2 linked regions of the Homo sapiens genome follow. The protein of the gene in region 1 interacts with the protein of each later gene in a pairwise test. Each region holds a gene or a part of one and is shown in the gene's direction. Other genes may lie near its edges. The genes, in order: GRM1 and MAP2K5.

Region 1 (3,821 bases):
CAACAGAAAGATTGATAGATAATATAAATGCCAGTGAAGAAATGTTTATAGATGTTGTAGTGGGAGGCAAAGCTAGTTTTTGGTAGACTGTTTCTATGTTCTTATTGAAATATGAAATGACAACCAAGCCAAAATGGGGAGTGGGAATGGTTTTGGTAGTTTGGAAATTTGAAGAGAGAAGAGTAAGGATGAAATGATTAATGAAATATTTAATATTTAATCATTAATGAAATAATTTATTCCTTCTGTAAGAAAATTTACTTACAGGGGTGATGTAGTATAATTTCCTTGTGCTATTGAATATCATTTTTGGTACATGTGCTGATGAATTTTAAATAAAACCATTCAGCAAGGTTGTGTCTTTTTTAGCCATATTTAGGTGCTCAGGTGTAGACATGGAATAGGTAGATGGTTGGGTTTAACTAGCATTAATGTCAGGAAAACATAAGAGAGTTAAGGAATTTGCAAGAAGCAATTAAGAGGTAGACTATGAAATCTAAGCTGGGCTAAGAAGGAAACAAGAGGGAGGATGGAAGGAAAAAATAGGAAGGTTAATGGATTTGAAATTTTGATGAGGTTGAAAAAGTGCTGCAGTAGAGGTAGTAGAATATATGAGTTTGTATGATAAGATGAGGTAGCAGAGATGGATGTTTGACATCCACATTCAGAGGTATTAGAAACATCTGTGATAACATGGTCAAAAGTGTGACCCTGGACATGTGTGGGTTACAGGAAACATCAGTGGAAGGGGAGAGTTTGAGAAATCGTGAGGGCATGGTATCAGATGTATCATCCACATACAAGTGAAAATCCTCAAACTTCGGGAGAGGAATAGAGACACAGAGGCTCATAAAATGGGGGCTAAAATCATCAGTGGAATAGAGAGACAGGGAACTTGTAAAGTGTAATATTTATCTCATTGATTTCTATGAGTTTTCAGTTTTTTGAAGTGTATTTTATTACAAGAATGCTATAAAACAAAAATCAAAATATAAGACACAAACCTCTCATAATCCCATCACTTTGTCAGAGGATGGTGGATTTTGACAAAGCCCTATAGCTGTTTCTGGTCTGCTGATCTCTGGCCTGGCCAGGTGTTCCATTTATTTTGCTTGCTCATTCTTCGTGGAAACGTTGCAGGACTTTATGTTACCAAGAGTGTCTGTCTCTTAACCTGGCAGCCAGCTGATGCAAGTCCTCAAATAAACAGAGCTTCTCTTCATGCTCCTTTGACCTCCCTAGTCCAATGCACTGATCTCTCCTACGTGGTTAAAATCTGGGACAAGAACTATTAATAATGGTTGTAAAATAGGGCAGCAATCCTTCATTTTATAAAACATGTCTCATTATAGGTTCCCTAGCTCAGATCGTCTCTCGTTATTTCCACAGAGTTGATTGTCTGGTTACATTTGATTACTCTCTTTAATCCATCCAGATCTTCCGTCAGTCTCAGCCATATTTACAAATTATTTGGCAAGTCCGTTCTCTCCATTCCTGTGACTAACAAGTTGTTATTCCATTGTGTAAGTAGTGTTATTGCCACAGTTGTCTTGAACATCTGCTGATTGTTTCTGGACAGGGAATTATGGGGAGAGCGGAATGGACGCTTTCAAAGAGCTGGCTGCCCAGGAAGGCCTCTGTATCGCCCATTCTGACAAAATCTACAGCAACGCTGGGGAGAAGAGCTTTGACCGACTCTTGCGCAAACTCCGAGAGAGGCTTCCCAAGGCTAGAGTGGTGGTCTGCTTCTGTGAAGGCATGACAGTGCGAGGACTCCTGAGCGCCATGCGGCGCCTTGGCGTCGTGGGCGAGTTCTCACTCATTGGAAGGTAAGTTTCTCTCTCTCTCTCTCTCTCTCTCTCTCTCTCTCTCTCACACACACACATGCACACACACACTTTGAAACACATATGCTTGCTTTCACAAAACTAGACTTGCTAACTCCAAAGTGGGAGAGATGTGCAGTGCTGAGCTGAACATTAGTTCTGGATCTCACTGTTAATGTGAATATTGGCATCTTCCTGCTAAACAACAGCAGAACAAGGCTCAGGAGGGAGGATTGGTTAAGCCCAGGAGTTTGAGGTTACAGTGAGCTATGATTGGTGCCACTGCATTCTAGTCTTGGTGACAGAGTGAGACCTTAACTATAAAAAAAAAAAAAAAAAAAGGAAAGAAAGAAAAACAAGAGCAGAGCAGCATATAACAAGATACTGATACTTTTTCAGAAAAAAAAAAAAGATGGAAAGCTGTTTGGCAGAATATGTCTTGATCTGGAGAATTATTCGTTTCACTTGCTTTCTCCACACCCAAGCCGATGCTTATGTCTTCCTACCTCCTAAACATGAACATCTTATTGAGATATCAGTGGATAAAGGACAGCAGTGAAAATGGAAAATATGTATTAAGATTTGAAATTTACAGAGTTGGCTAAAGACAAGTGAAGATATGCAACGGAACTGTGGAATTTTATAATATATCATCTTGTCACATTTATGAGATAGCTAATTTTGATGCTTTCTGCATGTGATTTCTGGAATTGCTGGTGGTGGCTCCCAAAATTTCTGTTCTCTTTCTAAATCACGTGTACTTGTTTGGCAATAGATGGTCATCATCACTGGATTTTTCATAGGGCTTTTGACCTAACAGATATCTTGTTTAATTTGCCAGCTTCTAATATTGCATAAATAACCTGCTCAGTTTTCCCCAGGAACCTACTGAGTTTACCTGATCTTTACTGATCTTCAACCCTATCACACTCATCTTCCGAAGCTCTTTGTCTCTTCCCATCTCTTCTTCTGGGTACACTACAATCATATCACACCCATTAAAGAGCCTCAACCACTGATCTTCTGCTCTGGAAGCTAGGTAGTACTGGTGTGGACATGCTCACTGGACCTTTCCCTTTTGTCCTTGTGTTTATAATAATGACTGCAATTCTAGGAACACTAACTTTGCCATCACCTGAAATTAGAGGTATAAGACACTTGAGGGACTTTTTAAAAGAAAATAGGATAGAAATACAAATAAATGAATAAAGAAACAGAGATACTCTCCAAGCATGAGGAGGTGTGGAGCCAAGGTCAAATTGTAATTCATGATTAAGATAATTATTAAATGTGGGCAAAATTGGCACACTGGCACACAGAGTCAACTTGGCGTCTTCAACATGGTGCAGTTTTTGGAAGCCAATAAAATGTTCATAAGAAAGCAGGTCTTCTAAGGAGTATTTAAATAAGAAATGTTATTTCTTTTAGGAGTGAAAAGAAGGTAAGCAGTATTGTTGAAGTGTTACACAGAGTAATATATGCACCAGGACAGAGGGTGTCCAGACATTCAGGCCTTTCCATTGCTCTGTAACATGACTGCTTTTAGGAAGGTTGCTTGTTTTTAAAAAATTCTCATATTTATAATTTACAAAACAACAGTAGTCTGTTTTGCAGAATTTATTCCTTTTATAATATCCTCAAAAAAGGGTTCTGGAGATATTGAAAAGATGTGGCAAACCTGTGAGCTTCGGGGCATATAGACTACCTAATTATGAAACATAATTACACAAAATTGTGCGGTGTGTAATTGGAGTGTGAAAAATGTATCCTGTCACCATTGTGAGCTGGACAAGAATGATAATGGCAACTTAAGTCTTTCTAGCTCTTTTATTTTACCTCCTAATAATGCAATTGAACTCATACAAGTATTTCTGAGAGTCGCACATGTGTTTGTTTATGTGCTTGTCTATGAACAGGTCAGCTACATGTGATGTCTACCTCTTTTATTCCTCTTACCTGCCCCACCTCTACTGGATTCCACATATCCGAGGGAGC
Region 2 (3,821 bases), on another chromosome or scaffold:
TTGTACTACTGGGGCAAGTATCTTCTGTATCTCAGTTTCTTTATTTGTGAAAAAAAAGTTGGGGAGGGGTGAAAGTAATGCCTACCTCCTAGAGTTCTGAGGACTCCTTGAGTTGATACATGTAAAGCACTCAGAACAACTTAGCACATAGTAAGCGCTCCATTAGTGTTGTTATTATTGATGGGATTGTTATTATAAGGGATTGGACTTGGGTCTTCTGTTTCTTGAGCATCTCTAAGTTGTACCTGGCTCAAGGCTGACTGGCTTAACAGGAAACACGAGTGGCCCCACCACTAGAGCTCAGCATGCCAGGTGTCTGCACACTTTTGGCTAGGTAAGCCCAGGTGGAGCATGTTTTGTCAGAAAGGCCTGACGAAGGACCTGTGGCAGTGGGTGTTCAGTGCTATCTCCTAGTGCTCCATTTTAGCAAATGTTCAAGCCCAGATCATGGCAGACTCCTGTGATCTGTTCTCCAGGTTTACTTCATCTCTTCATCAAGAAAAGGCAAGAACCAAGAGACACGTCAGCATCTCTGGCTTGGAACCTTAAACTTTAAAGTCACGTGGAACCTGGAAGAATCCCCTCATCTAATTCAGACTCATTTCGAATGAAGAGGCATGAACCCCACAGGGGGAAAATACCTTGCTAAAGCCACCCAGCTAATTTTTGGCAGAACCTGACACAGATGCCAGAAGCAGGTTGTAGTCACCGAGTCAGCCATAACTGAGTGTCTCGGACCTGAAGTCAGCAGTTGAGGGCTCCAGTCACTGTGCATCAAATAGCTGGGAGACCCTGGGCAAGTCAGTCGGTCTCTCTGGGCCTTGTCTTTTGTCTGAATCATCAGGGACTGGCTGAACTATGGAGGCTGACCTGACCCTCAAAGGTAGAGACATTTGGGTCTTCTGTTTTGCAGCTTTCTGTGTTTCTCTTTTTCCCTGGAGACTGAGTTCCTAGTTTTGGGAAAACTATACAAGAGGTCTGGTTAGTGTGTGATGAGAGAGAATGCCCAACCCTCTCCCCTCTTCTTTTTGTATTCTGTGGTCTCCAAGCTCAGATTTCCCCTCATCTATAAGACTTCTGGGCCAGGAGTGGTGGCTTAGGCCTGTAATGCCAACACTTTGGGAGGCCGAGGTGGGTAGATCGCTTAAACTCAGGAGTTCGAGACCAGCCTGGGCAACATGGCAAAACCCCATCTCTACAAAAAATGCAAAAATTAGTGGGGGCTTGGTGACACTCACCTGTGGTCCCAGCTATTAGGGAGGCTGAGGTGGGAGAATCTCTTGAACCTAGAGGTCGAGGCTATAGGGAGCTGTGATTGCACCACTGCACTCTAGCTTGGGTCACAGAGCGAGACCCTATCTCAAAAAAGAAGAAAACACACACACACACACACACACACACACACAGATTTCTGTCTAAACTGAGTCTGTGATTTTTTCCTTTCTCCTGAGTTACCAAATACTATTGGCTGTTTATGTCTTTTGTTTGGTGCTTATACTCTTAAGTGTTTTATATTACTAGTCTTTCAGGTTTGTCTTTATCTCTGTAACCAGTTTATAATCTTCCTAAAGTCAAGGATCAAGTTTTATTGTCCTGTAGCCTACAGCTTTGTGATCTTTATGCTCGTGGCATGTTGTAGATGCTCAATGATGTTTTGGATCTGTCAGATATTTGTCTGATTTATTGAAAGGAAGAAGAAAAGTATCAAAAAATGGTCATCATCAAAATATGTAAACTTCGGTTTTCTTTTTTCTTTTTTTTTTTTTTTTTTGAGACAGAGTCTCGCTTTGTTGCCCAGGCTGGAATGCAGTGGCGTGATCTCGGCTCACTGCAACCTCTGCCTCCCAGGTTCAGGTGATTCTCCTGCTTTAGCCTCCTGAGCAGCTGGGATTACAGATACACACCACACATCCAGCTAATTTTGTTGTATTTTTAGTAGAGACAGGGTTTCACCATGTTGGCCAGGCTGGTCTTGAACTCCTGACCTCAAGTGATCCACCCACTTCGGCCCCCCAAAGTGCTGGGATTATAGGTGTGAGCCACTGCGCCCATCCCGGTTTTCTTTTGAAACCTTCTTTAGGTTAGTTAGGTACATGTTATATTGTCAAGAGCAGAAGAAGGCCGCTTGGAAATAAGTCACTTTAGCTGGAAAATGTATATAAAATCATCAAATGTACCCTGCTTTAAAATGACTAGTAGATATTACTGATGTTTAAACTTCTTACCTCTTTGTCATTATGATTGCCCCACTTTATTTGCTTTAAAGAACAAAATGGTTGGTTGTGTTCACATGATTCTCTCACTCAAGTTTGCTTTGTTCTTTCTCCCTTTTCCTCGTATCAGGTGAGGAGCATGTGCAGTGCCTTGTTTATGTCGATGGGCTAAGGCATGCCATTGCCACTGAGCAGGTTTTCAGTTGGTTGTTAGAACTCTGCACTTTGATGGGGTCTGCTATTCCTAAGTAGGAAGGAGCCTAAATTAATTTGCTAACACTATAGAGGTACAGTTCACATCTCAAGATCGGAGTTTCCTGGAAATAACTGGTGATAACCTAGACTTAGAGAGTTGGGGATGAAGCAGTTGTTTTCCCCTCGTTTTTTTAAACCTACACTGGCTAGAATGAGTGTTCAATAAGTACTGCTGAAGGATGAAGTCAGTGAGTGAATCACCATCCTCCACTGATTGTAGGGTGCTGGAATTTCAAAGTTTATTACGAAGTAAGCTTTGTAATATTCCAGTTATTGGTGTTTTGTTTTATTTATTTGACACTAATATGGCACTTGCCATGTGCTAGACACTCTTCTGAGTACTTTACAAATACTAACTCATTTGTTAGGTACAGCTAAGATCTGATATTACACATGAGGAAAGTGAGGCACAGAGAGATTTTGTGCACTCAGCTGTGCCAGAGAGCTAGCATCCAGCTGTAGCTGTTTGGCTGCAATTTCATGTTTTCAGGCTTTCCACTGGATTGCCTGTGTGCTTTATTCTGTACTCCCTTTACAGTTTCCTGTCAATAAATACTTTCTAACTATGAGAGTGTAGAAATAATTTTTTAACACTAAAATCTTTTATAGATGCTTCCTCAAAAAGTTGATGTTTCATTTGTGAGGACTAGACTCAGAAAAAAAAATCTCTTTTGGCTGTAATGAGCAAGGACTGCCTAAGATAGTCCTCTTTGATCAGTTTTATATGCACAGATTTATTTTTGAAAAAAAAAAAAAGCACTATAGAGGCAAGACTATTATGCAAATTGCCACTGCAGCAAAAGCTTCTAAAGAATTGCCTTTAGAAGGAAGTTGCAGCCACTCTGCTAAGTGCCCTGCTTGGAAAGGCTGTGGGCTCCCTGCTGAGAAATACTGCGAGCGGCTTTGTCAGCCGGCTGCCTGGTGCCAGTTCTGCTGCAGCCTGGGAGGGACACTGTGGCAGAGCTCCTGGAGAGAAATGAGGTTTGCAGGCCATTGGAGTTGGACTGGACATGATGGAGGGTCACTTTCCCCAGAGCGTAGGTGTTCTATGCTTATTCAATTAAGCTGTCTCAGTATACTAATTTTCATGTGTTTTCAACTTTATAGATTTATTTAAGCATTGATGTCAGATTATATACCCTTTTTAGATTTTTGTTGTAGGCTAGATTAACTTTATTTCGGTGTCATTAAGTATGTTTTCTGTTGCTTAAGAGTAAAGGTTGATAAGAACTGTTTGTGTTAAATGTGGCATAATGGGTTTATATCGTCATGGAAACTTGGGTGTCGAACTCCTACCATGATGAGTGCGAGGCACAGTGTTGCTTGTTGTATATCAGGAACTACATTTGTTGA

What was found.
Region 2: the proteins of GRM1 (region 1) and MAP2K5 come close enough for resonance energy transfer, tested with the Homo sapiens proteins (one large-scale study listed by BioGRID).

Annotation. Positions count from the first base shown.
Region 1 is NC_000006.12:146,157,769-146,161,589, forward strand, and holds part of GRM1 (metabotropic glutamate receptor 1 isoform alpha precursor), read left to right. Parts: intron 1-1,579; coding exon 1,580-1,829; intron 1,830-3,821. UniProt on the Homo sapiens protein: G-protein coupled receptor for glutamate. Ligand binding causes a conformation change that triggers signaling via guanine nucleotide-binding proteins (G proteins) and modulates the activity of down-stream effectors.
Region 2 is NC_000015.10:67,545,703-67,549,523, forward strand, and holds part of MAP2K5 (dual specificity mitogen-activated protein kinase kinase 5), read left to right. Parts: intron 1-3,391; exon of another isoform or gene 3,392-3,478; coding exon of another isoform or gene 3,479-3,505; intron 3,506-3,821. UniProt on the Homo sapiens protein: Acts as a scaffold for the formation of a ternary MAP3K2/MAP3K3-MAP3K5-MAPK7 signaling complex.